3 separate regions of the Homo sapiens genome follow, and regions 2 and 3 are each linked to region 1. Evidence: fine-mapped expression QTL. A gene starts in region 1. Each other region holds a variant in brackets. All regions are shown on one strand. Distances are from middle to middle.

Region 1 (9,869 bases):
TGTTCACTTGTTTATCTGCTGACCTTCCCTCCATTATTGTCCTATGACCCTGCCAAATCCCCCTCTGCGAGAAACACCCAAGAATGATCAATAAAAAATAAATAAATAAATAAAAAGAAAGAAGAAAAAGAAAACTTGGATCCACGTGGATTTTATTCTGGTGTCGGACGTGAAATATGCATAACTTTCTTCGATTTTTCCCAAGGTTGTGCCGTGTGTGTCCCTGGCAACCTGGAGGAAAGGATTTGGTCGGGCAGTTAGCCCAGTGTGGGGAGGTGACATTTGCAGAGACTGAAGACAGGAGGCACAGTCTCCTCCATACACAGAGACCACAGACGGAGAGAGCTGCATGTGCAAAGGTCTCAAGGTGGGAGGAAGCTTGGCTCATTCCCAGAACAGCAAGGCCAGTGCGGCTGTAGGTGCTGGGGAAGCAAGGAGGACAGGGATGGGTTCCTGGAGGGGCCAGCCCAGGTAGGACCTAGTAGGTAACTGTGGAGTCTGGCTTGGATTTGGGCTCTAATGGTACCGAGGAGCTGCAGGCAAGATCTTTAAAACTGTTCACTTGATAAGATAAGACCCAGACGGGAAACTGGGGGGCCTAAGGTTATGGACAGTTCAAATTTTGCTGCAAATTGGCTGGGCGTGGTGGCTCACACCTATAATCCCAGCACTTTGGGAGGCTGAGGCATGTGGATCACCTGAGGTCAGGAGTTTGAGACCAGCCTGACCAACATGGTGAAACCCAGTCTCTACTAAAAATACAAAAATTAGCCAGGTGTGGTGGCGGGCACCTATAATCCCAGCTACTTGGGAGGCTGAGGCAGGAGAATCACTTGAACCCAGGTGGTGGAGGTTGCAGTGAGCCAATATCGTGGGACTGTACTCCAGCCTGGTGACAGAGTGAAACTCCATCTCAAAAAAAAAAAAAATTTGCTGCAAATTGACGAATTGTTCTCCAAAAACCTGTATTATTTTCCCTCACCTTTCACTTGATGTTATTTCCGTATCATTTGCTATTTTATTAAATATTTCTGAAGCATGGTTTTTAATAACTGCATGGTTTCTTAAAAAACATATTTATTGAGATATAGTTGATATATAGTAAACTATACATATTTAGAGTGTACAGTTTGATAAGTTTTGACATCTGTATATACCTGGGAAACCATGACCACAACCAACATAGTGAACACATCCATCGCCCCCAAAAGTTCCTCGTACCCCATTGGGGTGTTTCCCTCCTGCCACCCCCTCCCCAGGCAGCAGCCCTTCTGCTTTTTGGTAATGATTGCCTGGTGCTTCTCACCATATGGCTGCCTTGTAATTATTTGAGCATTCCTCTACTGTTAGACATCCATGTTTATCCCATTTTTGCTACTTCGGCTAGGAAGAGCATTCTCATACATACAGATATCTTCATATACTTGACTATTTCCTTACAACAAATTCTAGAACTGGTATCTCCAGACCAAAGGTTATGAATGTTAAGAATTTGGAAGCAATTTGCCCAATCTTGTTCACAAGGCTTGCTAGGTATGACATGCACTTTCCATTTGATTTTCTTTCTGAAAAGTTGAATCATCATAATGCCAAAAAAAAAATACTAACCCTCCAAGCGTGGCTCAGATATTTCTGCTTGGACCTAAGAGGTGGCTATTTTTGGAAAGGTCCTTTTGTGGCTGTGAAGGAAACAAATATTCCCTCTTCCTTCAGATCCTAAAGTACTCAGTACCTTTGTGGAGTTTGCTGTGGGAGCACCCAATAGCCTGCCCTCAGCCATTTCCCTTCCTGCAGAATTCAGGAGGCTTCTGCAGCAAGGATAGTTCAACCCCCTTCAACTCTGCAGGCTTCTCTGGTGGAGGCAGGGACCTCCAGAGTGACTGACAGTAGTTCCAAGGCAGGCGGAGTGGGAGAACTGGCCTCTCTGTAACCTTACCTGCCAGGGGCCCTCCACTTCCCAGGTGTGGAAACTGAGGCTTAGAGAAGGGTGAGGACTGGCTGAAAAATCCCATAGCAGATGAGCAACAGAACTGGAACCCAACCCAGCTCTGCTCCACTCTGACGGCCACAACAGCCCAGCAGGTGGTCTGAGTGGTGCTGGGGACACCAGATGTGACTCAGGTGAGATATGAACACATGGGCTTTATATCCACAGCCAGGTATTTATTTTAATGTGTATCAATAAGTAGCTGTGACATCGAGGCTACGATTTCACAGCTGCAGTGATGTATGACAAGGTTAAAGGAGGGATTTAAGCTAAAAAGTGAAAGAAATGAGGCTGGGTTCACACCTCTAATCCTAGCACTTTGGGAGGCCAAGGCGGGTGGATCCCCTGAGGTCAGGAGTTAGAGACCAGCTTGGCCGACATGGTGCAACCCTGTCTCTACTAAAAAAATACAAAGGCCGGGTGTGGTGGCTCACACCTGTGATCCCAGCACTTTGGGAGACCAAGGCAGAAGGATCATGAGGTCAGGAGATCAAGACCATCCTGGCCAACGTGGTGAAACCCTGTCTCTACTAAAATACAAAAAATTAGCCAGGTGTGGTGGCACATGCCTGTAGTCCCAGCTACTTGGGAGGCTGAGGCAGGGGAATCACTTGAACCTGGGAGGTGGAGGTTGCAATGAGCCGAGATTGCGCCACTGCAGCCTAGCGACAGAGCAAGACTCCGTCTAAAAAAAAAAAAATACAAAAATTAGCTGGGCATGCAGTAATCCCAGCTACTCGGAAGGCTGAGGCAGGAGAATCGCTTGAACCTGGGTGGCAAAGGTTGCAGTGAGCCGAGATCGCACCACTGCACTCCACCCTGGGGCACAGAGTGAGACTCCATCTCGAAAAAAAAAAAAGTGAAAGAAATGAAAGAAGTGTGAAATGATCACACCCGTGGTCATAGGCTACCGCAAAAGAGTCCAGAAACAGTGAAAATAGGCAGGGGCCTCACTGCTCCACCTTGACTCGGGCAAGCCCTTCCCCCTTGCAAAGACACCAGGTAAGATGGGTGGCTGCAGGTGGCAGTCCTGGGCTTGCAGGTGCCCCATCCTCACACACGCGCATACGCATGCAGGGGCACACACTGCAGAGGCCGCAAAACAGGCCTCCTCTCCAGCCCTACACCTGACCTGAGCTTCTCCCCACGCTCCAGGGAAAGATAATGACCACTGGTCCCAGGTGCCAGGTGCACGTGGCCACGTGGAAGGCTGGGGACGTGACAAGAAGGAGGCAGGGCTGGGGAGGAGTCTCTAGGGGTGACAGGGTGTTTAGAGGCCCTTAGGTGCTCTATCCCCCACGTCCAGGTGGGTCAACACTGGTGGGCTTTGTCTTGAGAGGATGCCAGGATGAAGGACAGGACTCCGGGCCCGTGCCTTGTCACAGCAACACCAGCAGGCCCTCCTCGGCCCCAGCCTTCTGACCACCCTGGCCTGTGGGAGCTCTGGGCCTTCCCGAAAGCCTCCCACTGCTACCGGCACTGGGCACTGCCAACAGCCCGCCAGGCTGCTTTACCTGTAAACTGCTCCGGAGGATTACCAATACGGTAGTTTCCTTTCGCCTGTTCTACACTGTACATCCTGTACCACAATTCCCATGCCTTTTGCTTCCTTCTTTCCCTCCTTTCCTATCTTCCCTCCTTTCCTACCTTCCCTCTGTCCCTCCCCTTTCCCCTCCCTCCTTTCCTCTTTCCTTTCCTCCCCTTCTCCTCCCCTTCTCCTCCCCTTCTCCTCTCCTCTCCTCTCCTCTCCTCTCCTCTCCTCTCCTCTCCTTCCTTCCTTCCCTTCTGTCTGCATTTGGTCAGTTACTCTCTACCTTTTTGTTGCTGTTCTCACACCATTGGGCCCTATTTTCATTTTGATTTCTTACTCTTTAAAAGAAAAAAAGTAGCCGGGTGCAGTGGCTCACGCCTGTAATCCCAGCACTTTGGGAGACCGAGGTGGGTGGATCACCTGAGGTCCGGAGTTGGAGACCAGCCTGACCAACACGGAGAAACCCTGCCTCTACTAAAAATACAAAATTAGCTGGGCGTGGTGGCGCATGCCTGTAATCCCAGCTACTCCGGAGGCTGAGGCAGGGGAATGGCTTGAACCCGGGAGGCGGAGGTTGCTGTGTGCCGAGATCGTGCCATTGCACTCCAGCCTGGGCAACGAGAACAAAACTTCGTCTCAAAAAAAAAAAAAAAAAAAAAAAAAAAAAAAATATATATATATATATATATATATAAAGAGAGAGTCATCATTCCAGCATCGCCCCTGCCTTCTCCTCCCCAGATTCCACTAGAGGAATGTCTAGTGGGGACTCTCCTCTAGCCCCATTCATGTTGAGTGTGAGCACACGCATGCACACATATGCACACACATGCGCACACACGCACAGGCACACACACACCCGTGAAGGCATGTAGGCCAGCCCTTTATGGCTTTATCTCCCCGTGTTTTTTTTTGTGTGTGTGTTTTTTGTTTTTTTGTTTTTGAGACAGAGTTTCGCTCTGTCTCCCAGGCTGGAGTGCAGTGGCCCAATCTCGGCTCACTGCAAGCTCTGCCTCCCGGGTTCACGCGATTCTCCTGCCTCAGCCTCCCGAGTAGCTGGGACTACAGGCACCTGCCACCACGCATGGCTAATTTGTTTTTTGTATTTTTAGTAGAGACGGGGTTTCACTGCATTAACCAAGACGGTCTCAATCTCCTGACCTCATGATCTGCCTGCCTTGGCCTCCCAAAGTGCTGGGATTACAGGCATGAGCCACTGCGCCTGGCCTATCTCCCCGTGTTTTAGACAACCCATGTTTCAGTTCAATTGCCCATTCCAATTTTTTGCCCAACTATTCCCCTGAGGATAACTCTCTGCCCATCGTTGGACATGATGGGGTGCACAGGATGTTCCTCGGGCTGAGGAAATGTGACCCCACCATCCAAATTGGTGCAGTGTCTTCTGTTCTCCTTCTTTTATGCACTCTGAGCATTTGCATCCACCACCAGGCAAGCCAAGCCCAGTCCCGAGCCGACACCCAGGGCTCCGGCATCAGCCTGACTTGCAGCTGTGTCCAGGGCCTACCCCAGGGAATTGGCCACACAGCCAGCAGCAATGTCTGTCTCTGTTGCTGGCTGACAGCACTGTCCTTATTGGCATTTTATGCCTCAGACGGTGCAAGAGAGACACTGACTAGGGGCATTTACTCACTTGCTATCATGAGGCAGAAATTTAAATAATAATAATAATAATAATCAGTACTGCATTTATTCACGCCAAGAAAAGTAAAAGCTAAGGCCCAGAATATGGCAAGGCAAAGGCTAAAAAGAAAAGAACAAGTTTTCCTCTTGCCTAGCAGCTCACTTTAAGGACAGTTAGAAGATAACGCTGTCCAAATAGCCAAGGCCAAAGGAATGGGCTCCAGACACCCCCCTCCCTTCCAGAGCAAGCTTGAAAGAAAAAAAAGAAAGACAGGTTCTTTTACTGTTACTCTTTTCCCAGGCTTCTTAAGCATGATTAGCATGATTATGTTTTACAAATGTCTGTATTTAGCCAGTTCTTGTTTTTCTTTCAATGCAGCTACAAGGCCACTGGCTAGGTCACAAATTATGTTATGCTATAGATTACGTGACCTGTTACTGTATGATTAACTGCTTTTATTTTGCTACTGCTTTTATTTTGCTCCTGTAAGGCTGTTTATAAAAACACTGCTCTTTGTTCAGGGCTCAGCTTTTGGATGTGAATCCTCTGAGCCGGTGCGTACCTAAAATAAACAAATCCTTCTGTACTGCAAATTGGTTTTTCCGTTCCTCAGTTTACCGCAACATTTTTGGCAACCACGAAGGGACTGGAGACGGCAGGCTTACTGTCTCCTTTGCCTCTGGGGGCTGGAGCGAGGGTCTCAGGAAACCTGTGACCCCAGGTGCCACCGGGAGAACTTCAGCCTGGGGGGGAGATCAGCTCTCCTGTGACCTGGCACCCCTACCCAGCAGCGAAACGGAACCTAAAGAGGGACTACAGGATGATTTCAGAAACAACGCGCTTCAGGAACCACAGTAAGGTTTTGGGGGCTCAAGGCAGGACCCGTCCCTTGGACAGAAGGGAGCCTGATCATCTCCCGGGGTGTGCCAAATAGTCCGAACCAGAGGGGCTGGGGGTGACTGGAGTGGCTTGTCAATTTGGATGAAACTCACACCCCGCCGACACAGGATGCAAGAGTGGCTCGCCAAGTCGGCTAGGGAACTGGAGGTGGCAAGAGTGGCTCGCCACCCCAACTGGGAACTAGAGGGGGCGAGAGTGGCTTGCCACCCCAGTTACAAACATGGGAACTGAAGGTGTGTGGAAGTGTGTGAATGAAAAGGCCTCATTAGGCGCATCAGCTGCGAAGTGAAGAGTCACAGATCCCTTAGTGTAGACTGTGTGCTCCGAGAAAGGGTGGGGCCGACTAAGACTAGTGGTGATCTGCATATGGCTAATAGGAGCTGCCCTACAGCTCAGAGTTGCAGCAGGAATAAGGACCTCTCCAAAGCCAAGCAGCATCTGAAAACCCCCATAATAGGAGACAGTGTGGTTGGTCGAAACGAGAGGAAGAGTGAGTAGGCAAGAGTGAATGTGCTGCGTTGTAAAGGGAGGAATGGGAGGAAAGTCATCAAAACATCAAAACTTACTCTGTGGGAGTGCATGTTACGGAACCTTAAGAAAGGTTTTGCAGGGGATTATAGAGTTAACCCCCTCAGAGGTTGAGAACTCTGGGTGAATTAGAATTGCCCTCTTCTGGTGTTGGATGGCTGACCGAAGGAACTACAGACAGGGAACAATTGGCCATGTATTTAAGGTGGTGACAAGGGTTGGAGAACAGCCAGTGTACCTGGATCAATTTCTTTATATTGACTCATAGTTAAATATAATATAGCCAAACCCAGCATTGATCCAGGCCTGTTTAACAGCTTATTGCAAAAAAAACCAAAAGTGAAAATAAGAGCAGCTTTGCCGGCAGACACAGAGTTAAAAGGGAATCCCAGAGACAGCAAGAGAAGCCAGTTTTACAGGAGCCACCAAAGGTAACAGAAATTCTTCCTCCATATATCCCAGCCTACCCCCGCTTTACCGAGGCCGACAGCCCCCCCAGGAACCAGATTCAGGAGCTAACATGCCCCAGGTCTCACCTCGAAGGGGAGGATCAGAGCCTTGAGAGGCCAGGAAGGAGGTCAAGATAGTCAAGTGGGCCATCTCAGATCTGGCCGTGCTGGAGCTATGCAAATGCCTCTCAGGGGGACACGAGGACCTATCTATTATGATGACCAGGATCCCAACTAGGACCCAGAGGATGAAACTCAGCTTCAGCGTTTGCAGAGGTACCAAGAGGCACTTCTGCAGGGGCTACGAGTTGGTAGAAGGAAAGCAATGAATATAAAGAAGATTTCAGAAGTGCTTCAAGGAGCTGATGAGAGCCTAAGTCAGTTTTATAAGAGACTCTGTGAAGCATTCCGGCTTTGTACCCCATTTAACTGTGAGGCTGCTGAACATCAGCCTATGGGGAATACTTCATTCGTAGGGCAAGCCCAGGGTGACATCAAGTGGAAGCTGCAGGCATGAATACCACCCAGTCCATAAAAGTGGCCACCACGGTGTATGTTAACTGTGACCAAGGAACAAAACGGGAAAGAGCAAAAGCCACAAGCGCGGCAGCTAAGCACGCCCACCATTAAGTTCCTCTCCCCAGCCCGGCTCTATCTGGAAAAAGAAGGGGCCAGGGACTTGGCGCCAGGAGAAGAGCAAAGGAAAAGGAAAGGAGAAAGTAACAGTAAGTGTGAGAAGGGAAAGAAGAAAGTAAAAAGGAAATCAGAAAAAAACAGGAGAGACAGGCGGCAGTGCACGGGGGCGGGGCCCGTGCCGTTGTCCGGCCCCACCGGCTGGCCGCAAGAGCAGAACTCAGGAAAGAAAAAGGAAAGTAAATTGAAGGCTTAAGAAAAAGGCCAATCTGTTGTCAACAGCTCTTATGGAAAGGGAGATTAGCAATGTGAGAGGACGTGGATGCGGACGTAGACGTGGAAAAAAGTCAAGTTAGGAATGGATTCAAGAGCCAGACAAGGTGGGCGCCTGTGATCCCAGCTACTCGGGAGGCTGAGGCAGGGGAATGGCGTGAACCCGGGAGGCGGAGTTTGCAGTGAGCCGAGATCGCGCCACTGCACTCCAGCCTGGGAGACACAGCGAGACTCCGTCTCAAAAAAAAAAAAAAGAAAAGAAAAAGAAAAAGAAAGAGATTAATGTGCGCGATGCAAAAAGAAAGGACACTGGAAGGATGAGTGTTCAGAAGGCAATGAGGGAAATAGCCAAGACCACGAGACAAAGAGGCCATCGGCCAAGGGCTGCCGCACCTTGGGGAACCAAATACTGATCTGATCAGGCTGGCAGGAGCCGAAGGACGTAAGGAACAGGACAGACCGGGAACCTTCTCATTAGGCACCCAGGGGCCCATGGTCACATTAGAAGTTAAAGGCAGCAGGATTCTGCTGTATCTGGATTCCAATTTCTCACTGATGGCTAAGCCACTAGATGGAGTTACAAAAGGGGAAGAAAAAGAACCCCTCCTCTGGGAAACAGCAGGAGAAGGAGCCCTGCCTGGTGAAAACTTGCTTATAGACTTCACAGAACCTCCCCGTGCCGGAGGTTATTGGTTCATGCTAGTGCTTGTTTGCACCTTTTCAGGGTAAGTTAAAGCTTTCCCCACCAGGACAGAAAAAGTACAAGAAGTGACTAAAGTACTGTTAAAAGACATTATTCCCAGGTTTAGACTGCCTCTAACTTTAAAGTCAGACAATAGGCCAGCATTTGTAGCTGAAATAGTGCGAGATTTAACAAGACTGTTAAAAATAAAATGGAAGTTACACACGGCCTACTGGCTGCAAAGTTCAGGAGAAGGTGGAAGGCGTGAACCGGACACTCGAGCAGCTACTGAAGAAATATTGCCAGGAAATTCATTTAAGATAGAATCAGGTTTTTGGCTATGGTCCTCCTCTGAGTCAGGTGCACCCCCACCAAACAAACTGGGTATTTGCCCTATAAGATTTTTTTTGGTCGGCCACTCCTACATCATAGGTCAAATTAAAGGTGACCTCCAGGAACTAGGGGAATTAACTTTAAGAAAGCAAATGCAGGTTTTTGAAACAGCCAAAGTGTTCATAATTAGGTACATGAAAATGCCTATAAGCCCGACACCCTTTTAAATCTAGTGACGCTGTTTAGGTTAGAAAGTAAAACCTAATTTCTCTAGGATCCATATAGGATGGGTCCTATATCGTAATCTTGTCCATTCCCACTGCTGTTTAACTTGCAGGTGTTATGTCTTGGATCCACCACAGTCGGCTAACACTGGCAGCTCAGGACAAGTGAACCAGCCAGCAGGACCCAGATCATCCAACCTGGCTGATCCTTAGATGAGACCGAGTTGCTGCTGAGGACAACAGCCCTGCTCTAGTCACTCTGGAGGCTGACTAGTCTACGCACGGCTGAAACTTGAGGACTTGTCAAGCAAGTAATGTAGCTAAAATCTTAAGACTAGTGGTTTTCGTGTACACTAACTGTTTTACTATTGTTCTGTCGCTGTGCTCAACCTTTTTCCCAGGTAAGGACCTTTTTTGTCCTTGCTGGATATGAATATGCTGTACATTGTTTTGTTGTTACCCCCCTTAACCATGTAGAAGAAACACCTACAGAAGGTGTCCCCACTGTACACATACTACTTGGTCAGGGAACAGTATAACTAGAACCCTATTGCACTATACTTATTATGAGTGTACAGGGACTCGCTTAGGAACTTGTACTTATAATCAAACCACCTATTCAACCTGTGACCCAGGAAATGGCCAGCCTTATATATGCTATGACCCTAAGTGTTTACCTGGGACTTG
Region 2 (9,869 bases), 35 kb before region 1:
AGAGATGGGATCTCACTATGTTGCCCAGGCTGGTCTTGAACTCCTGGACTCAAGCAGTCCTTCCTCTTTGGCCTCCCAAGCTGCTGAGATTACAGGTGCCCAGCCCTGCAAAAATTTCTAAGATGCAATAGATACAACCTCCTCTCCCTGTCCCCAGAATGCGGGGCTCATCTTTCCCTACGTATTTGAGTATCTACAAGTGCATACAGTGCCACCATACACGTGCGAGGCACACACAAATGCTGCCTACTCTGTGCGCGGTCCTGCAACTTGCTTCTCGTCCACATTGAGTTCCAAGCTGCCCCATGCCCACCTACACAGCCCTGGCCCTGCTGTCCTGCACCCCCCTGCTGGCAGGAACCAGTCTGCTCTTGTGTCCCTGCTGGGGCTCAGGGAACTTCTCTGTTCACTTTTTCACTGTTGCAAACAAAGAAGCAGACAGTGGCCTTGTCCATGTTGCAGCATCGTATTTTAATGGGAGTAGAAAAAGAGCATAGTGTTCGTGGGCACCCCTGGCCTCTGGGGCAGACTTCCTTATGCCTGCCCTGCCCTGCCTGCTCTACCAAAGTTCCAGCTCCTTCTTGATGTGGTCATCCTGCCCTCTTTGCCCTTGCTGAAGTCCCACCAGCTGCTCGACACCCCATCTCCCTGTGTCTCCCAAGTCAGCTTTCCCAAGGCGTCTGAGTGCCCTGCCCACCTCGCCATCGCTGCCACATCGGCCCCAGCCAGGGGCTTCTTGGAGAGGGGGGCATACTCCACCACTTTGCAGCCTGTGTTCCTTCCGCTTCTGTGTGTCCAGAATGGGCCACCTGTCCGCTACAGCCAGGCCTGGGTCAGGGCCCCCCACCTCCCACCTGCGTGGGAGTCCCTCACCAGGCTCACTGCGTCTTCCCCTCCCCAGCACCTTTCATCGAGGGCAGGAGGCCAGGGCACCCATGTGTTACAACTCCCCTTCCCGGAAGCCTTCCCTGGGGTCTTGGGCACACCCTGCCAGACTGGGCACTGTGGCTGGGAGCCCCAGCACGCTGGGAGAAGGGCCCTTAGGCCAGCTGGCAGCCAGGCCTGCGTCTGGATCCAGGCCACCAACACTGGGCAGCCTCTTTGCTCACCCCTTCAGCCTTCCTGAGGCTGTAGTGAGGAGGGTGGCAGGGGCATGGCATGGCCTGAGGCTTGGGCAAGCGTCCGCCTCCTCTGGCTGGTGGGGGCTCTGCCACATCCCACTCACGGTGTACAACTAAACCGTTAGTCTCTGTGGGCCAGCCCCACTTCCCGTTCCTTCTTCCTCCTGGGGGAGGCCACCAGGCACGCAAGCTGGCCCCGGTCCATCTGCTGCTGCCTTGGGCCCCTCTGGCTTCTGAACTAGTAGGTGGCTCCCCCTGCACCCTGGGAGTCAGCCAGCCCCCCAGGACTTTAGCTTCAACCTGAGCACACTGCACCTGACCTTCCAAGCACGTCTTCACCCAGCCAAAACTTCACCAGCTGACAATGAATCTCACCACCTGTCCACGTGCCCGCATCCTCCCCAGGGTTTCTCTTACTGAGAACGCCGGCACCTGCCCTGCCTGGGAAGAAGCAGGGATGGACTAGGGGTGTTCACTCCAGTCCCCAGAACCTGCTGATGTGAAGGTCCCCGGGCCGCGTGTCCCACCAGCAACACGTCTGCTCTACAGCCCAGCCTTCCTTTCTCCAAGCCACCCCCATACAGAGACTTCCCAGAGAGACCTGCCCAACGGCTCTTTAATCCACGTCACCCCAGGGGCCGGCCTATCTGCAGCCCCTCTCCTTCTGTGATTTTCTTCCATGCCCAGGTATCGGAGACATATCACAGCCCTGGTGGGAAAAGGTGGTGTCCCGGGGGACAAAGTTTACACAGCGTGACCATTGGGATCCAAGCTGCACAGCAGGGCGTGCACCTGTGCCCCAAGTTCAAGGATGGCTAGAGGAGAGAACGCTTTTACTGGAAAGGCAGAAAAGAGGAGGAAGAAAAGTTAAAAGGAAGAAATGAGAAAATACAGAAAAATACAGATGGATGAAAAGGGAACTTAACCTCTCCCCTGTCACTCACTCGTTCCCACAAATCATCGCGGAGCCCTCGGACGGGAATCCCGAACTAGCCCTGGGAATGGACTCGTGGAGGAGGCAGCTCTGGGTAAGTAAAACAGGAGGACCCTTGGGTGCTGTTCCTGAGCTAAGACCCCTCCTTGCTGTGTGCCCCTGGGCCAGCTATGGAGTAAATCGGAGGTGGCGGCAACACCCCGGCGGCCTCCACCACACCAAAAACAACACATCGTCTGGCATTGTCATGGGGCCGCGGATGTGTCTATTTTCACTGAAAGTACAGAAATCACTTCTGAGAAGCTGGCATGGTGGCTGGGGCCTGGCCTGTACCTCTGCCCCAAGTGGACACGAGCCCTGAAAGGCTGAGTGGGAGGCCAGGTGCAGTGGCTCACACCTGAAATCCCAGCACTTTGGGAGGGCAAGATGGGAAGATTGCTTGAGTCCAGGAGTTCAAGACCAGCCTGGCCAACGTGGCAAAACTCCTTCTCTGCCAAAAATACAAAAAATTAGCTGGATGTGGTGGCGCACACCGGTGGTCCTAGCCATTCTGGGGGCTGAGGTGGGAAGATTTCTTGTGTCTGGGAGGTCGAGGCTGCAGCAAGCCCGGACTGTGCCACTGCACTCCAGCCTGGGCAACAGAGTGAGACCCTGTCTCAAAAAAAATAAAAGAAAGGCTGAGTGGGGTTGGGGGATTGGGGGTGGAGATCGCCCACCTGGAGCCCACCTGCTGGGAGCTCACACAGACCTCCTTGCCCGGAGCACACGGGGTGCCCACCAACTCCCAGGTGGAGCATGGGAGCCAGGCCACATGCCATCCTGGAGGCTATGATGGGACTCATCACTGAGGTCTGTGCCATAGCACTTAAGCACCTTATGCTAATCTGCTCTCGGAACCACACAGAGATGCAGAATAAGAGGCCCCAGCCAAGGCTGCAACCCCTTCATCACAATTGTCACAAATCCGCTGTCCCGTCTCCAGCTCACCTATTCCATGGTTGTTCCTACCACCTTCCAAGCTCAGCTCTCCCTGTCACCTGCCCCTCCGCCAGGCCCACCAGCCTTGACCTATGCCACTAACTGGCTCGCAGCTGGGAAGTCTTCAGCTCTTTTTCCATTTCTGTTTTCTCCTTTCTTCATACTTAGCTTAAAGCTCCCAGCACTTTAGGGGGCAGCCCACGAATCCAAACTCCCCAAGAAATTCTACAAGAGACATTTAGCAATGTCACCTGCACCAGCTGGCAAATGACCTTCACTTGTGAGTTATGTGTCCAGTCTTCCAAATACACTTCTCAAGGACATGAATCCTTGTGTCATCCGAATTGAATCCTGAAGACTATGGACAGTTCTCCAACGCTGAATGCTACATCAACAATCGTGGGGGGGAAGGTGATAACACATCTTCAATTTTGCTTACGATTAACTTCATTTTAACAACTTTGCTCAATATCCCCCAAATCCTTGGCCAATAAACTGCTCTGGTACTTTGTTTTTTGAAAGTGTTCACTTTGTTCCCTTTCTCCATAATCAATTCCTTTTAACCAAAACCTTTCACCTCTTTCGAAGTCATTGGCCTATGAATCCTAACACTGGCCATGTAATCAAGAAGACACTCAACACAGGTCCCTATGCCCTTTGAGCAAACCTCCCCACTCCTGCACCCCCAGTCCTGCAGAGCTGAGACAGGCAGGTGGCTGAGGAAAGCAGGTGAAAGGTCAGCTTGATGCACCGTGCATTGCCAGGTTTCAAAACACGCCCAAGGAAAATGGAGATATGGGACTTGCCTCTGTAATATAAAACAAACAATAAAACTTGATACGTGACAACGGACTTCCAAGAAAATGGTCTTTATAGCAACTGAAATATGTAAATAATTTCTGAGTGGGGCAGAAGTCTTTCAACACAGCCTTGCAATCAACACGTATGGAGATACTAATAGATAGGTGTGTGGGAAGGTAGGTAGGTAAGACATAAAGATTCCTTTTTGTGCTTTTAATAATGAAGTTACAGCACATTCCTTTTTTTTTTTTTTGAGACGAAGTTTTGCTCCATCACCCAGGCTGGAGTGCAATGACATGATCTCGGCTCACAGCAACCTCTGCCTCCTGGGTTCAAGTGATTCTCCTGCCTCAGCCTTCCCAGGAGCTGGAATTACAGGCACGCACCAC[C/G]ACGCCTGGCTAATTTTGTATTTTTAGTAGAGATGGGTTTTTACCATGTTGACCAGGCTGGTCTCGAACTCCTGACCCCAAGCGATCCGTCTGCCTTGGCCTCCTAAAGTGCTGGGATTACAGGCATGAGCCACTGTGCCCGACCCAGAACATTCTTTTTACCAAACCCTTTGGCATATGCTAGACAATGTGACCCATATATATTTTTATATTGATGTATTTGACTAGCATTAGATCATTTAATTCCCACTAGCACCCTAGGAAATGGGTACTAGGGCTATCTCCATGTACTAATGAGAAAACCAGGGCTTAGATGTCAAGAAACTTGCCCAGTGTCACAGCCAGCAAATAGCAGGGCTGGAAATCAAACCCAGGCCCAGGCCAGGTGCGGTGGCTCACGCCTCTAATCCCAGCACTTTGGCAGGCCAAGGCGGACAGATCACCTGAGCTCAAGAGTTCGAGACCAGCCTGACCAATATGGTGAAACCCTGTCTCTACTAAAAATACAAAAAATTAGCTGGGCTTGGTGGCATGCACCCGTAGTCCCAGATACTAGGGAAACTGAGACAGGAGAATTTCTTGAACCTGGCAGGTGGAGGTTGCAGTGAGCCAAGATTGCACCACTGCACTCCAGCCTGGGTGACAGAGCGAGACTCTGTCTCAAAAACAAACAAACAAACAAACAAACAAACAAAAACCCAGGTCCAACTCCAAAACTTATACTCTTAACTCCCAAAGTAAAGTGGTAGGTACTACACAAAAAGTTCTACTTAGGATTCCTAAAGTTACAACACAGATATAAAATTAGGTCACTGTTGTAACCAAAATGATGAGATTGCAGCCAGCAATAAAACTCCAGTAAGTATAAACACCATCAGTGCCAACTGTAAAATTATTCACATGCTGCAGTCTTCCCACTAGCATTGCACAGTGCCCATGCACACAGGAGCAGGCTCTGCTTTCTATTCAAACCTAGCTAACAGCTGCCCATCTCCTCCAGCGGTAAACAACTATGTTGGAAATCCTCTGAGAAAATGTTACCCATGGGAAGCGACAGCTTAGCTCAGCAGGAATACCAGGCAGGGCCTCTAGGAACAGAGAAAGTGTGAGGCTGGATGACATGGGCCTCATCCCTGGAAAAACTGGAGAAGGCGCTGTAGGCAGGGTCAGAAGCAGTGTCTCTGGCGAAGGGCAGGGCAGTTATCTCATCATCTACAACACATTCTTGGATGCCCGGGTGACCAATGCCTGGGAAGATTCTGCTTCGCTAGAAAGCTAGTGCCAGCCTCCGGGACTGGCTCCAGCTCGGGGAAACCACCTTCACAACATGCATGATGTCCAAGGTGGCAAAAATCTGGCCTGGCCTCCTCACTGCTGCCCAAAGAACTTCAAGGGAAGTACCAGGAAGGCTCTGGAAGGACAGCAGCAGCCCAGGGGGTTCCCTAGAACTAGCACACATGTGCAGTAAAGTTCATGGCTCTTCTGAACTGAGATGCAGGCAAAAATTAGCAATAATGGGAAGGAAGAAAAGCAGCAGCTCCTCTTCTCCAGGCAAGTGTGGGTGTGCGCTCTCTGCACTGTATGAGCCACATCGTTATTCAATTGCAGATATGCACATCTGTAATGGTGCCCTTGTACTTTTCCAGTAAATGTGTATACACACAAACAGAAGTTGTTTCCCAAACTTGGCTGGGCGTGTTGGCTCACGCCTGTAATCCCAGCACTTTGGGAGGCCAAGGTGGGCGGATCACCTGAGGCCAGGAGTTCAAAACCAGCCTGGCCAACATGGTGAAACCCCATCTCTACTAAAAATACAAAACATTAGCTGGGTGTGGTGGTGGGCACCTGTAGCAGGAGAATTGCTTGAACCTGGTTGGTGGAGGTTGCAGTGAGCCAAGGTCCCACCACCGCACTCCAGCCTGGGCAACAAGAGCGAAACTCCATCTCAAAAAAGAAAAAAAAAAAGAAATTGTTTCCCAAACCTGATGGAAGCACCTTAGAAGTGAGAATGTAAGACTCACCTTATGTTTTTCGGAGGGTTTCATGTACAAGAAAGGTGAAGGATTTTCATTATTATTTTTTTTTTATAAGACAGGGTCTTGTTCTGTTGCCGAGCGTGACCTTGAACTCCTGGCTCAAGAGATCATCTTGCCTCAGCCTAAGCTGGGACTACAGGTGTGCTCCACTACACCCAGCCTGGAGCTTTCATTATGAAAGGTTGCGTCTTGAATTCATGACTGATCATTCAATATTCACATTATTTAAATTGGCCACACAGTGGATTTCCTGTACTGAAGTTTATCATAATGGACTATTCACATTTATGGGGTCAATATAATGGGTCGTCAGGTTATAAAAGGAATTCTGGGCTGGGCACGGTGGCTCATGCCTATAATCCCAGCACTTTGGGAGGCTGAGGCGTGTGGATCACCTGAGGTCAGGAGTTCAAGACCAGCCTGGCCAACGTGGCAAAACCTCATCTCTAGTAAAAATACAAAAATTAGCCAGGTGTGGTGGTGGGCACTTGTAATCCAGCTATTCGGGAGGCTGAGGCAGGAGAATCGCTTGAACCCGGGAGGCAGAGGTTGCAGTGAGCCGAGATCATGCCACTGCACCCCAGCCTGGGTGACAGAGGGAGACTTCGTCTCAAAAAATAAAAATAATAAAATAAAAGGAATTCTGGACTGGGTATGGTGGCTCATGCCTGTAATCCCAATACTTTGGCAGGCGAAGGCAGGAAGTTCGCTTGAGCCCAGGTATTTGAGACCAATCTGGGCAATGTAGCAAGACCCCATCTCTACAAAAAATACAAAAATTAGCCAAGGTGTGGGTAGTGCATGCCTGTGGTCCCAGCTACTTGCGAGTATCACTCGAGCCCAGGAGTTTGAGGTTATAGTGAGCTATGATCACGCCACTGCACTCTAGCCTGGATGACAGAGCGAGACCCTGTCTTACCAAGTACTGTAAAAATTAAGCCAATTCTGGGTGGATCACTTGAGGTCAGGAGTTTGAGACCAGCCTGGCCAACATGATGAAACCCTGTCTCTACTAACAAACAAAAACTACCTGGGCATGGTGGTGCATGCCTGTAATCTCAGCTACTCGGGAGGCTGAGGCAGGAGAATTGCTTGAACTGGGGAGGCGGAGGTTGCAGTGAGCCATGATTGCGCCACTGCACTCCAGCCCGGGCGATAGGGCGAGACTCCATCTCAAAAAAAAAAAAATTAAGCCAATTCAAATTTAGACCTTATAGTGCACCACGTCAATAAGTAATGGTTAGATAAATACAGACAAATATGATCTTAGAAAAAAAATTTGGAAAAGCCACAAAGATTCACAATTTTATAAAGAAGATAGCCAACGTATTGACAGACCCAGTTATCTGACCTAGCTATTCAGAAGCCCACCAGAAGTTTAACAGCTGCTACTTCTTTCCCACTGTGCCTGCCCTGCCTCTAGCCAGCATCGGCACTCGGGCAGGAGCTCAGACTGCAAGGAGGAGACCTGCACCTGCCCAAAGGACATCCTAAACCTCCTCTTCGTACCAGTATATTGTTCCCACAAATGTCCCTAAGACAACAGGAGCGGTGTCCCCTGTATCTCCCATGCATATTCTTCACCTTTGCACAGAATATAACAACTTGAACTTCTAATTCAAACTGAACTTGAACTGAACTTCTAATGTGGGGACTGCAAAATACATTGGTGTCCCTAAATGCCGCCTGCAGCCAGGACATTGTTTGCTAGAGCCTGTATTTACTTTACACACTCAAAACTCTCTTCACATCTGACCTCTGATTGGATCCTCACAAAACTCGTGTGACATGGAATGACAGGTTCAGACCCACCACCTTACAGATGAGGAAATGGAAACCCAGAAACCCTAGAGGCGGATTCAGTGCCACACCCAGTCTGCATGGGGTAGGGAGTGGGGGCCTCCAAAACCCAGGCCCTCTGGCTGCCCAGTGGTCTGGGAAGCAGCCTGGGAAAGGGAAAGAAAACACACAGATCTGGGTTCAAATCCCAGCTCTACCAATTACTCAGACCTGTGACCTTGAGCAAGTATTTGCCTCACATAAAGTATGCAGGATGCCCTTACCTCCTCCGGCAAACTGCAGGAGGACGTGGCAGCCAGCTCTGACACCTGTTAGGTCTTTACTGCAGGAACACGTTCTTTGTCCCTTTCCAACTGTAGCCCTGTGGTGCCAATGCAAACCCTCTAGGAATGTGGATTTCTCTTCCTACCTGTTGCACCCCCACCCCATGCCAAATCTCAATGCCAGCATTTGATACCTTCTGACTTCGATGTATACCTTTTAGCAATCTGTGGTTGTATTTTGTGCAAACTGTACTGGACATCACATTGAGCCACTGTGTGTATTTGAAGAAGTATAAAGAAACCAGGAAGCCCGGCGTGGTGGCTCATGCCTGGAATCCCAACGCTTTGCAAGGCCAAGGTGAAAGGGTCACTTAAGGCCAGGAGTTCAAGACCAGCCTGGGCAACATAGTGAGGCCTGTCTCTACAAAAAAATATAAAAAATTAGCTAGGTGTGGTGGCATATGCCTGTGGTCCTAGCTATGTAAGAGGCTGAAGAAGGAGGATCCCTTGAGCCCAAATGGGAGATTACGTTGAGCTATGATGGCACCACGGCACTGCACTCCAGCTTGGGCACCAAGGCAAGATCCTGCCTCGGAAAAAAAAACTCCTGGCGCAGTGGCTCATGCCTGTAATCCCCGCACTTTGGGAGGGTGAGTCAGGCAGATCACCTGAGGTCAGGAATTCAAGACCAGCCTGGCCAACATGGTGAAACTCATCTCTACTAAAAATACAAAAATTAGGCAGGCATGGTGGCATGCCCCTGTAGTCCCAGCTGCTTGGGAGGCTGAGGCAGGAGAATCACTTGAACCCAGAAGGCAGAGGCTGCAGTGAGCCGAGATCATACCGCTACACTCCAGCCTGGGCAACAGAGTGAGATTTCCTCAAAAGAAAGAAAAGAAAAGAAAATAAGAAAAGAAAAGAGAGAAAGAAAGAAAAATGAAACAAAATCTCCAAGAAAAGAAAGGGAAGGAAGGAAGGAAGGAAGGAAGGAATGAAGGAAATAAAGAAAAAGGAAAGCAAACCTCCATGTATTAAATCTTTTTCAGGGCACCAGAGGAGATGACAGTTGGCAAATCAGGGATAAATGCTTTTATAAATGAAGAATCATTTTATAAAAAGTCAAATTTCAGTGATAGCATATGACAGTTTTGTCTCTTCTCTTCTCTTTTCTTTTCTTTTTTGAGACGGAGTCTTGCTCTGTCAACCAGGCTGGAGTGCAGTGGTGTGATCTCAGCTCACTGCAACCTCCAACTCCTGGGTTCAAGCGATTCCCCTGCCTCAGCCTCCCGAGTAGCTGGGATTACAGGCGTGCATCACCATGCCCAGCTACCTTTTTGTATTTTAGTAAAGACGAGGTTTCACTGTGTTGGCCAGGCTGGTCTCGATCTCCTGACCTCATGTTCCGCCCATCGTGGCCTCCAGAAGTGCTGGGATTACAGGCGTGAGCCACTGCGCTTAGCTGACAGTTTCTCCAGGGCATCAGAACACAGCGTTAGGAAAGCTGTCTGTGGTGACTCAATGTGACCTGATGACCACAGGACCCCCTG
Region 3 (9,869 bases), 130 kb after region 1:
GAATGCTTAGGTAATTAATTTTTAAACCTTCTCCTTTTGGTAACAGGTATTTAGGGCTATAAATGGACCACTAAGTATTTCTTTAGATGTTTCCTAGGTTTTGATATCAAGTGTTTTTATTGTTGTCTAAATAGATTATAATTGAAAACTATTGCAAATATGAAATTTAAATATCTATAAGTTATTTAGAAATATATTTTATAATGCATGACTAGCTATCTTTTTGTTATTAACATTGCAAGAAGGTCAGATAACGTGGTCAGTTTTTTGATATTTGTTGAGATGCATTTTGAAGCCTAATGGATGGTTAATTTCTATTTTCTTTCTATATCCATTTGACTATGTTTTTAAAATTATGTTATTTGCATTATCTGTAGCTTTATTAATTTGTCTGCTATAAATATCAACCCATTATGACTGAGGTCTTGTCATTTTGTCTTCCACCTATTTTGAAACTTTGTTAAGTGACTACAAATCCAAGATTATTTGATAACACTGAGGAACTGTGTCCTTTATGTAGTGGTCCTCTTCATCCTTACTAATTTTTTTCTTTTTTGAGACTGAGTCTCACTATGTTGCCCAGGCTCCGGTGCAGTGGCCATGATCTTGGCTCACTGCAAACTTCGCCTCCTGGGTTCAAGCAATTCTCCTGCCTCAGCCTCCCAAGTAGCTGGGATTACAAGCATGTGCCACCATGCTCGGCTAATCTTTGTATTTTTAGTAGAGATGGGGTTTTGCCGTGTTGGCCAGGCTGGTCTTGAACTCCTGACCTCAAGTGATCTGCCCACCTCAGCCTCCCAAAGTGCTGGATTACAGGCGTGAGCCATCGTGACTGGCTCTTTATTTTTTATTTTTAAGTTTGCAATTACCGGTTTCCTTCTACAGGGATATCATTACTTTTTCTTGTGAGAGCCCCACGTTGTCATAAAGGTTTTGCTACCCAGGCATTTGGCATTGGCCTCTGTGGATATTCAAAGGATTTCACAGGTCCAGGACCAGGTTTTTGATGGATTTCTTGGCTAGGAGATTTGGCATCATGCAAGTGGTAGTAAATTCAGATCCTACACCTGTGAATGGTGCAAATTTGGGGCTCTAGCTACTCAAATTGGTGCCCAACTCTACCTGCACGCCCACACATCCACACACCCAGTTACAGGTGGGGTGGAGCTCCTAACAGCACCCTGGGCAGAACACTGCTTCCTCTGGGCAGCTCCCTGGGCCCTGGCCTCATGCAAGTTCCCCTGTTCAAACTCCCTCCCCAACTTGATGCACTCCAAGACCACCTCCTAACCTCTAGCCCTCCCACCCCTAGCCCCTGGAGCCTGTGTCTCATCTGGTGCACCCTGGGCCCCCGGCGTCAGCTCTGGTTGCTGATTCATTTGTGGCACCTGAAGATTTCTCTTCCTGTCTGTCATCTTTCTACTCAGTATTTTATTTGGGTGGGGCGGGAGGGGAATTGTGTTTTCTCCAACATTTTTTGGTCTCCACGGTGGGAGCACAGACCCATGTCCCAGAGTTACCAATCTCCACAGGTCACTATAATTGGAAATGTCCCCTCAGGTTTAAAACAGATTTAAACATTTACCAAACTCATACTATGTGCCAGATACATACATTCCATATATATAAAAACACATATACATATATAATAGTGCACACACACATATGCACATAGACATATATACATATCACACATAGCATATATTCATATATACATATGTAGCACATATATACACATAGAGCACATAGCTCTATACACAGCACATATACCTATACACAGTAAACACACATATATGTATACCCATGTACACGGACACACCGAGCACATATATAACGATGACCACGAACTCACAGTTGTGGGTAGGAAACACACAGTTAAAGGCAGTCCTACCCTACAGCTCAGGGTGTGTCTAACAAGGTGAGGGACTCAGAGGGTAGGACTCAGGTGGGAAGGGGAGCTGGGGGGAGCCAGGTGAGGGAGCGGGGTGCTGGCTGCAGGAGAAGTGTGCGTGCACGTGGCTGGGTACCAGGGTCAGGCCCTTCCCAGGCGGGCTTGGGCACCGGCTGCCTGATCCCTCTCCAGCTTGTTGGGGAACCCCCTTCTAATGCCATGGAGCCTGGCCTCTGCCTCTGGGTCACCTGTGCACCCACATGACCGCTGCAGGACGACGCGGGTCTACTCCATGTGGATTCAGGGGTGTTTGGGCAGTGCTCTGTGGGGAAGGGAGACCAGGGGCCCCGAAGCTCTGAGAGAGGAGGGTGCAGACACATGCTGCTGTCCCACGGTCCTTGTACTTATACTTCTGATGGGTCTTCCCAGGCCATTGTCCCCCACCTGCCACCTTCCCCATCCCCCACTCTGCTCTGGGTGTCTGGACAGGGTGGTGATGTCCAGTGGGGCTCAGAGGCCCTCAGGGCGCCTGGCTTCCTCTTGGGGGTCACCAGGGAGCCCCTTGCAGACATTTCCCAAGGGCCCGCAGTGTGTCAGGGGCTATTCCAGGTACCAGGGTGCTGGAGAGAAAGAGACAGGCCCCTCCTTGCACCTGTGGATGCCGTTCTGCAGGAGAGACGGTCCCTGAGCAGGGACAGCAAGGTGGCTTCAGCCTGGCACCTGTGAGGGTGATGGCGAGAGCTGTGATGGGGGCCTTTTTTTTTTTTTTTGACACGGAGTCTTGCTCCGTCACCAGGCTGGAGTGCAGTGGCGCGATCTCAGCTCACTGCAACCTCCGCCTCCTGGGTTCAAATGATTCTCCTGCCTCAGCCTCTCCAGTAGCTGGGATGACAGGTACACGCCACCATGCCCAGCTAATTTTTGTATTTTTAGTAGAGACAGGGTTTCAGTATGTTGGCCCGGCTGGTCTTGAACTCCTGACCTCAGGTGATCCGCCCACCTGGGCCTCCCAAAGTACTGGGATTACAGGTGTGAGCCACCGTGCCCGGCCTTGATGGGGGCCTTTATGCGGAACCCTGATGGGTTGCAAAGGGATAAGGGTTGGAGGTGGGGCGTGTGTTAGGGAGATGGCCCCAGAGGACCCCTCCCGGTGGGGAGATGCTCAGCTGCAGGGACCCCTGAGAGAGTGCAGGTGACATTCGAAGGAATGTGTGGTCATGGGTGGGGTAGGGGAACAGAGAAATGACAGGGAGGCTGATCTCTCCATTTACTGGAACGACGTGATTGTGTGCTGTATTCGAGGATAGTGATTCAGTGGACAGGGGACTCCTGATGCGTGGGAGAGGCCGCAGCTGCAGGAATGATTTCCTGGGGAGGTGTCGAGAGGAGAGGGGACCTAGCCCACAGTCGGGAGCTTGGCCAGCTAGGAGCTGAGACATCAACATCATCAGGAGGAGGCGCAGAACCAGGCGTGGGTCAGCCAGGGACTTGAGGGGGGGAGGTGACACTCCCTGGCATCCTCTTGCTCCTTGATAGCAGGAGAGTGTCAAGTATTGGGGCTGAGGAAAGGAAGAGGTACTTGGGGTGGAGGGGTTGAGAGACAGGAGCCCTTATCCCAGCCGAAGTAGAATAATGAGCTGTGGCTATTTTCTAGTAAAAGCCAACACATACGTGAAAACTGGCCACATCAGTGGAGATGCCTGGCTTCTCTGCAGTGACGTGAGCTTCAGGATGCAGGGGTGAGTGGGGAGGTGGAGGGTGGGGGAGAGTACGTGTCTCTGCCACCCCTGAATCAGGGGCTGGCATACAGTGGTGCTCAATAAATGTTTGTGGCTTGGCCCCTGGATTAAGCGCCCCGCAGCGCTTAATGAACTCCTGAACTCCCGGCCCTCCTTCCCTCGTCTCTGCAGATGGAGTGAGTTCAGCCAGCATGTCGGCTGGATGGGTGGGCACCGCGTCTGACTTGATCCCTCTGTCTGTCCACCTGGTCCCTAGTGTGAGTCCAGCTGCACCGTTTCGTAAGCCCCCTGCCACTGCGCAGACCCTGGTGAAAGTGAAACATTCCACGGGGATTTGGGCTGTGAGAAACAGCCTGCCTCTTATCATATTCTGCTGGGAGAAAGTGCAAGCAACACCCCCATGATCTTATCAATATCCTGCCAGGCAGCAAGCCATATTGCCCAGACCCCTCCCACCCATACCTATAAGTACCCCAGCCTGTAAGCGGTGGTGGGCTCTGGCATCAAGCTGGTCCCCCACCTCCGCAGGTTTTTACAATATACCTGCGTTTCCTGTAGAGCCGCCACTCTCTCTGTGTGTGTGTGTCTTTCCTTAACCCTCACCTCCCCTTTAAAAAACCTAACACTAGGCCAGGCACAGTGGCTTACACCTGTAATCCCAGCACTTTGGGAGGCCGAGGCAGGTGGATCAACGAGGTCAGGAGTTCGAGACTAGCCTGGCCAATATGGTGAAACCCTGTCTCTACTAAAAAATACAAAAATTAGCCAGGCGTGGTAGTGGGTGCCTGTTGGGCACTGAGTAGCTGGTGGGTCCCAGCTACTCGGGAGACTGAGGCAGGAGAACCACTTGAATCCAGGAGGCAGAGGTTGCAGTGAGCCCAGATGACGCCATTGCACTCCAGCCTGGGCAATAGACCGAGACTCCGTCTCAAACAAACAAACAAAACAAAACAAAACAAAACCTAACACGTAGTACCATGCCTGCAGGTAGTAAATGTTCAACAAGACTTGCTGACGGATGAATGAGTGTGCAGACCAGCAGGTTATACACTGGCTGTTTCCTGTAGGGGGCTGAATGGTGGTCCCTAAAGATAGGTCCCTGTTCCAGAACCCGTGAATGTGACTTATTTGGAGGTAAGGTCTTTGCAGATGTAATAGAGTTAAGGATCTTGAGATGAGACCATCCTGGATGA[G/T]GCAGTTGGCCCCTAATCCCAGTTCTTATAAGAGACACACAGAGGAGTTGCCTAGGGAGGAGAGGGGGCCTCATGAAGACACAAGCAGGGACTGGGTTTATGCAGCCACATCCCAGGAACGCCTAGAGCCACTAGAAGCCAGAAAAGCAAGGAGGGGCTCCCTAGAGCCTCAGGGGGCGCATGGCCCTGCCGACCCTAATTCTGGGCTTCTGGCCTCCCGACCATGAGAGAGGAGCTTTGTGCTTTAAGCTGCCCGGTCTGTGCGGCCACAGGAAATTCCTATGCCCCTTGGCGCAGGTGTGCCCACCATAGAGAGCAGAGTGCCATCGCCACACACTGCTCATTGAGGGGTTGATCCTGGACTTGGGAGAGGGCAAGTGGAGCCCACCCACAAGACGCCTTCCCAGCTGAGCCCGACACAGCAGGAACAGCGGGGACCCGGCCCCAGGTGGCTCTGCTCTCAGCCTTCTCTTCCTAGGAAGGGTGCGGGGGTATCCAGGGCCAGCCAGGGGGCCCCGTGCCCAGCACATCATGAGCACTCAGAGTTTATTGGCTGAGTGCCTGATGGACTGATGGACTGATGGACAGTGGGACCCCAGACTGCTCAACCCTCCTCAGGGTCCCACGGTTCCCCTGAGTGGCTCTGGGGCTCTGTTAGAGGTTCTGAGCTTGAAGCTTGCTCCTGATCCCCATCAGAGCCAAGAGAAGCCCCGATTTATGCCAACTCCTGCCCCCAGCACTAATCGATGCTGAACGAGGCCTCGAGGAGGTACCGCAGCGGGGGGAGGTGATCATCACTCAGGCCGGGGACGGCCGCACGGCGTCAAGGGGTGTTTACAGTGTTCTAGTGTGCTCAGCGCTGCTTTGCTTGGCCACTGAACACATCAGAGACCGTGGAGACCCCTGGGAGGAGAGGCGTTAATAGCAGTGACCGCCCCGGGTCAGGACCCATGGAGGTGAACGTGCACAGCCCTGAGACGGAGCACCTCCTAAAATTTGGGGGTCTTGTTCTTATTACCAAGGTTATTTGTGTTTACTGTAGAGCACATTGGAGACGCTGGATAGATACTCAAAATACCGAAAAAGAAAAATTGCTCATAATCTCACCACCAGAGATAATTCCTTTGGGAATGGATCCTTCCAAGCGTTTCCTGTGTGTAAGCTTTCACACTGTGGGGTATGTTCGTGTTATGCTTTGATTCCCTAGTTGTTGGGTTTAAAATATTTCAGATTTTTTTTTTTTTTTTTTTTTTTTTTGTGATGGAGTCTCTCTCTCTTGCCCAGGCTGGAGTGCAGTGGCTTGATCTTGGCTCACTACAAGCTCTGCCTCCTGGGTTCACGCCATTCTCCTGCCTCAGATTCCCAAGTAGCTGGGACTACAGGCGCCTGCCACCACATCTGGCTAATTTTTTTGTATTTTTAGTAGAGACAGGGTTTCACCGTGTTAGCCAGGATGGTCTCGATCTCCTGACCTCGTGATCTGCCCGCCTCCACCTCCCAAAGTGCTGGGGTTACAGGTGTGAGCCACCGCGCCCAGACAATATTTCAGATTTTTAAAGTATTTTCTTTTTTCCTTTTTGAGATGGAGTCTTGCCCTGTTGCCCAGGCCAGAGTGCAGTGGCGTGATCTTGGCTCACTGCCACCTCTGCCTCCTGGGTTCAAGTGATCCTCATGCCTCAGCCTCCCGAGTAGCTGGGATTACAGGCGTCTGCCACCACCTGGCTAATTTTTATATTTTTAGTAGAGACGGAGTTTCACCATGTTGGCCAGGCTGGTCTCAAACTCCTGACCTCAGGTGATCCGCCCACCTCGGCTTCCCAAAGTGCTGGGATTACAGGCGTGAGCCACCACGCCTGGCCTTTAAAAGTATTTTCTATTTCCACTGCCTTATGGCCAATAATGGAGCCTGATTTTTAGAATGTGTTGAGGAGTGTGAGTGTGTGTGTGTGTGTGTGTGTGTGTGTGTGTGTGTGTGTGTTGGGGAAGGCACTAGGTTGGAAACTGTCCTCTCATATTCAATGTCAAGTAAGTTTTCCAATAGAGAATCTCTCATGTTAACTTTTAGGATTCCTGTCCTCAAAAGCCTTGCTTGACCTTTTGTCCATGCCACTGAAGACACAAAAATGTGTTCTTTCCCACGGCTAGTATGACGTTGTCCCTTTCTCCCTGTGCCTTAAACATCTTTAAAAACGACACAGATAAGATGCAAAGATTCTTATTTTGAAAGCTTCCAATGCTAAAGAAGAAAGAAGGTCTACCCTTGTCTTCACCCCCAGGTATCACTATAAATCCTTGAAGATTTTTTTTTCTGTGCATTTACCTATCAATATATGTTTTTTACATAAATGAAAATATAGGGCCTGGTTGTCTCGTAAGCTTGCTTTCTCAAAAACAAACTATGTCTTCTTGAATTTAGCTTGTCCGACGCTTCTCCGTGCTGTGCTGCACACTGAGGTGGCAGGTCCCAGGGTTGGTGACATGAGCTCATCCGCGCTTTGAATGTTTTTGAGGTGGGTTTCATTATTTCTGCTTTATTTGGGCTCAGAGAAGCTGAGACACTTGCTGGGCTACCTGGCTACCCTGGCCGAACAGGAACTCCCCCAACGTCCCACGGGGTGCAAAGCATCGCTTCTGTCCCCCACGCTCTCCTGCCTTCACCCAGATTGCAAAAAACAGGCCTCTCACCTGTCTTGGATGCAGTGTGTGGTCCCTCGGTGAAGGTGGCTGGTGCCTGCCCACTCCAGTGCTGGAGGCCTCAGCAGCCACCTAGGCCCAGGCCCCTGAGCCGCTCGCCCTGTTCTGGCTCTGGCCTGAGCTGCCTGCTTCTCTCCCGCTGGGCAGGGCTGCCCCCAGGCTCAGAGGAGCCTGTCCCCAGGATCCCCTGATGATCTTCGCTAGGTTCCCTCTGAGCAGTGGGAAGCCGGGCCTGAGGTATAAATGCAGGATGGGTGCCGGCCCCGCCTGCCAGGGCCTCTGCACGTGGGTACCGCGGTGCTGGCCCAGAAGAGCCAGCTGAAGTCTAATGGACCTGAGCATGAACCCCCGGCCCCCACAGGAGACAGCTTGGCGGCAGTGAAATGGAGGATGAGGCTGGGGCCTTCAAGGAAAGGTGATACCTCCCTTCCTGAATGCCACCAGGGATGGCCGAGGAGACCTCACAGCATTAGTGAGACCCACCGTGGGGGGTTCAGGTGAAGCCATGGAGGAAATGGGGGTTCTTGTGGGCTGGGAAAGGCTATTACAGCCACCCCCAACTGCCTGCCTGGGGAGATGCTCTGGCTAATGGACTCACTAAGGATGCTGCCTACGGAGGGATGGGGAGGAAGAAGAGCTGGGCCCGGAGCCCAGGATCTTATTTCCAGTCTGAGTTCCACTGCTTGTGAGTTGGGGAACCACACCATTCAGGTGACGTCTCTGAGCCTCAAAGTCCTCACCAAAATGCCTGTAGTCCCTCAGGGCCTCCCTCAATTCCTAGAAAGAAGGGGAGCTCACACACATGCCACACAGGCAGATGGTAGAGCAGCCCTTTCCCCCACACCGGCCGAGGCCCCCTTCCTGCCTGGCGAGGGAAGAGTTCTGATGTGTCAGTCCCCTCAAGGGCAGGATGGAGGCCGGCATCTTATCCGTGTCACCTGCCCTGTGAGGGTGCTGGCCTGGAGCAGGTGCCGGGTGGGCCGTATGGGTGGTGCAGCGGATGGCTGAGTCTCTAGGACGGTCCCCGAGCTAGCATGGTGTTCATTCTCACTGTCCCGCCCTGCAGCGGAAGGAGGTATAGGCATGGGAGATGCTGGGCATCTGCTTTGAACAAATGTGCATGAGGAAAGAAAAAGCGGGGACCCCAGACGTTAAGGCTGATCACAGAAGTAACCCTAGGCAACTGACTTGGGGGACAGTCTTAGGGGTGTGGGCGGTGCTGACTCTGCAGTGACAGTGAGGACTTCCCTGGCCTCTTTATTCTGGGTTTGCTGTGCTGGACCTATGGTGCCTGTCTCTTCTCCAGGAGGGGAGATCCTGCCTGAGAATGGGCCAAGACCCAAGAGACAGAGACAGGCTGCTCAGAAAGACATAAGCTTCCAGAAGGTGGCAGTTCTCACATTTTTTGTGCCTTCTGTGCCTAGAACATTGCCTGGCATGTAGAGATGCTCACATTTCTTGACTAATTGCTAGTTGATTGACAGAGTCCCCAGATCCAGGCACCTGGATCCAGCTGTTCTTGAAGCCCATCTTTGCCTGGACTTTTTAGTAATAGGAGCCAGTGCATTCTGTGTGTGTGTGTGTGTGTGTGTGTGTGTGTGTTTCAATGGGGTTTTTGTCATTTGCAACAAAGATTCCTGACCAGTGGAGAAACTAATACCTGAAAGAGGCAAAGAGGCTTGTTGCAAATACCTGCCTTTACATATGCAATTGGCTGGGTCCTGGTGGGATGACACCGTGAGGTTGGTAAAGCCCCACTTTCTGTGTTGGGCCACACGTGTCAGGAGGCAGCTCAGCTCTGCTTCCCCAGGCCTTTAAAGAACATGTGACATCAGGAGTGGTCCCTGCAGATGTCTTATCTGAAGCCTCCCTCCGGGAAGAATCTGCTTTCAAGTTCATGTGGTTGTTGACCGGGCTCGTTTCTTTGCCGGCTGCCAGGCTGGGAGCCTCTGTTTATTGCTGGCTGTTGGCCAAAAGCTGCCTTCAATGGCTTGCCACAGGGGCCTCTCTAATATGTCAGCTCACAACACGGCAGCTGGCTTCATTGAAGCCAGCAAGGGAGAGAGTCTGCTAGCAAGATGCAAGTCACAGTGCTGTGCAGCCTAATCAGCTTTGCTGTGTTCCATCGGTTAGAAGCAAGCCACTTGGTACAGCCCATGTGCACAGGGAGGGGATGACACGAGGGTGAGACGGCATTGCTGGGGGCTGTCTTGGATTCTGGCCGCCACATCGGTGGGCTGACCAAGACCCCCGTTGCGCTGCTGGTTTCCTGCCTAGCACAGAATATGCCACAGACCAACAACCACCACGTGTTTTTGTTCTTTCCTTTTCCTTTCCAAGTGGGAATTCTAA

Evidence for each region. PIP is the estimated chance that this variant, and not a neighbour inherited with it, causes the effect.
Region 2: its variant is fine-mapped to the expression of LINC02701 in whole blood (TOPMed, PIP above 0.99).
Region 3: its variant is fine-mapped to the expression of LINC02701 in gastroesophageal junction (GTEx, PIP above 0.99).

The regions. Positions count from the first base shown.
Region 1 is chr11:68,862,248-68,872,116 of GRCh38, forward strand. It overlaps LINC02701 (long intergenic non-protein coding RNA 2701), which reads left to right and starts at 6,113. Exons shown (of 2, transcript XR_950253.3): 1 at 6,113-8,668; 2 at 9,296-9,869.
Region 2 is chr11:68,827,565-68,837,433 of GRCh38, forward strand. All of the region lies in intron 1 of CPT1A (carnitine palmitoyltransferase 1A), which reads right to left. Among named protein-coding and RNA genes, the nearest start is that of CPT1A, 9.4 kb to the right of the region's middle. The variant C/G (reference allele first, on the strand shown) is at 4,224.
Region 3 is chr11:68,989,131-68,998,999 of GRCh38, forward strand. No RefSeq gene overlaps it. Among named protein-coding and RNA genes, the nearest start is that of MRGPRD, 13 kb to the left of the region's middle. RefSeq lists a silencer at 5,536-5,702. The variant G/T (reference allele first, on the strand shown) is at 4,824.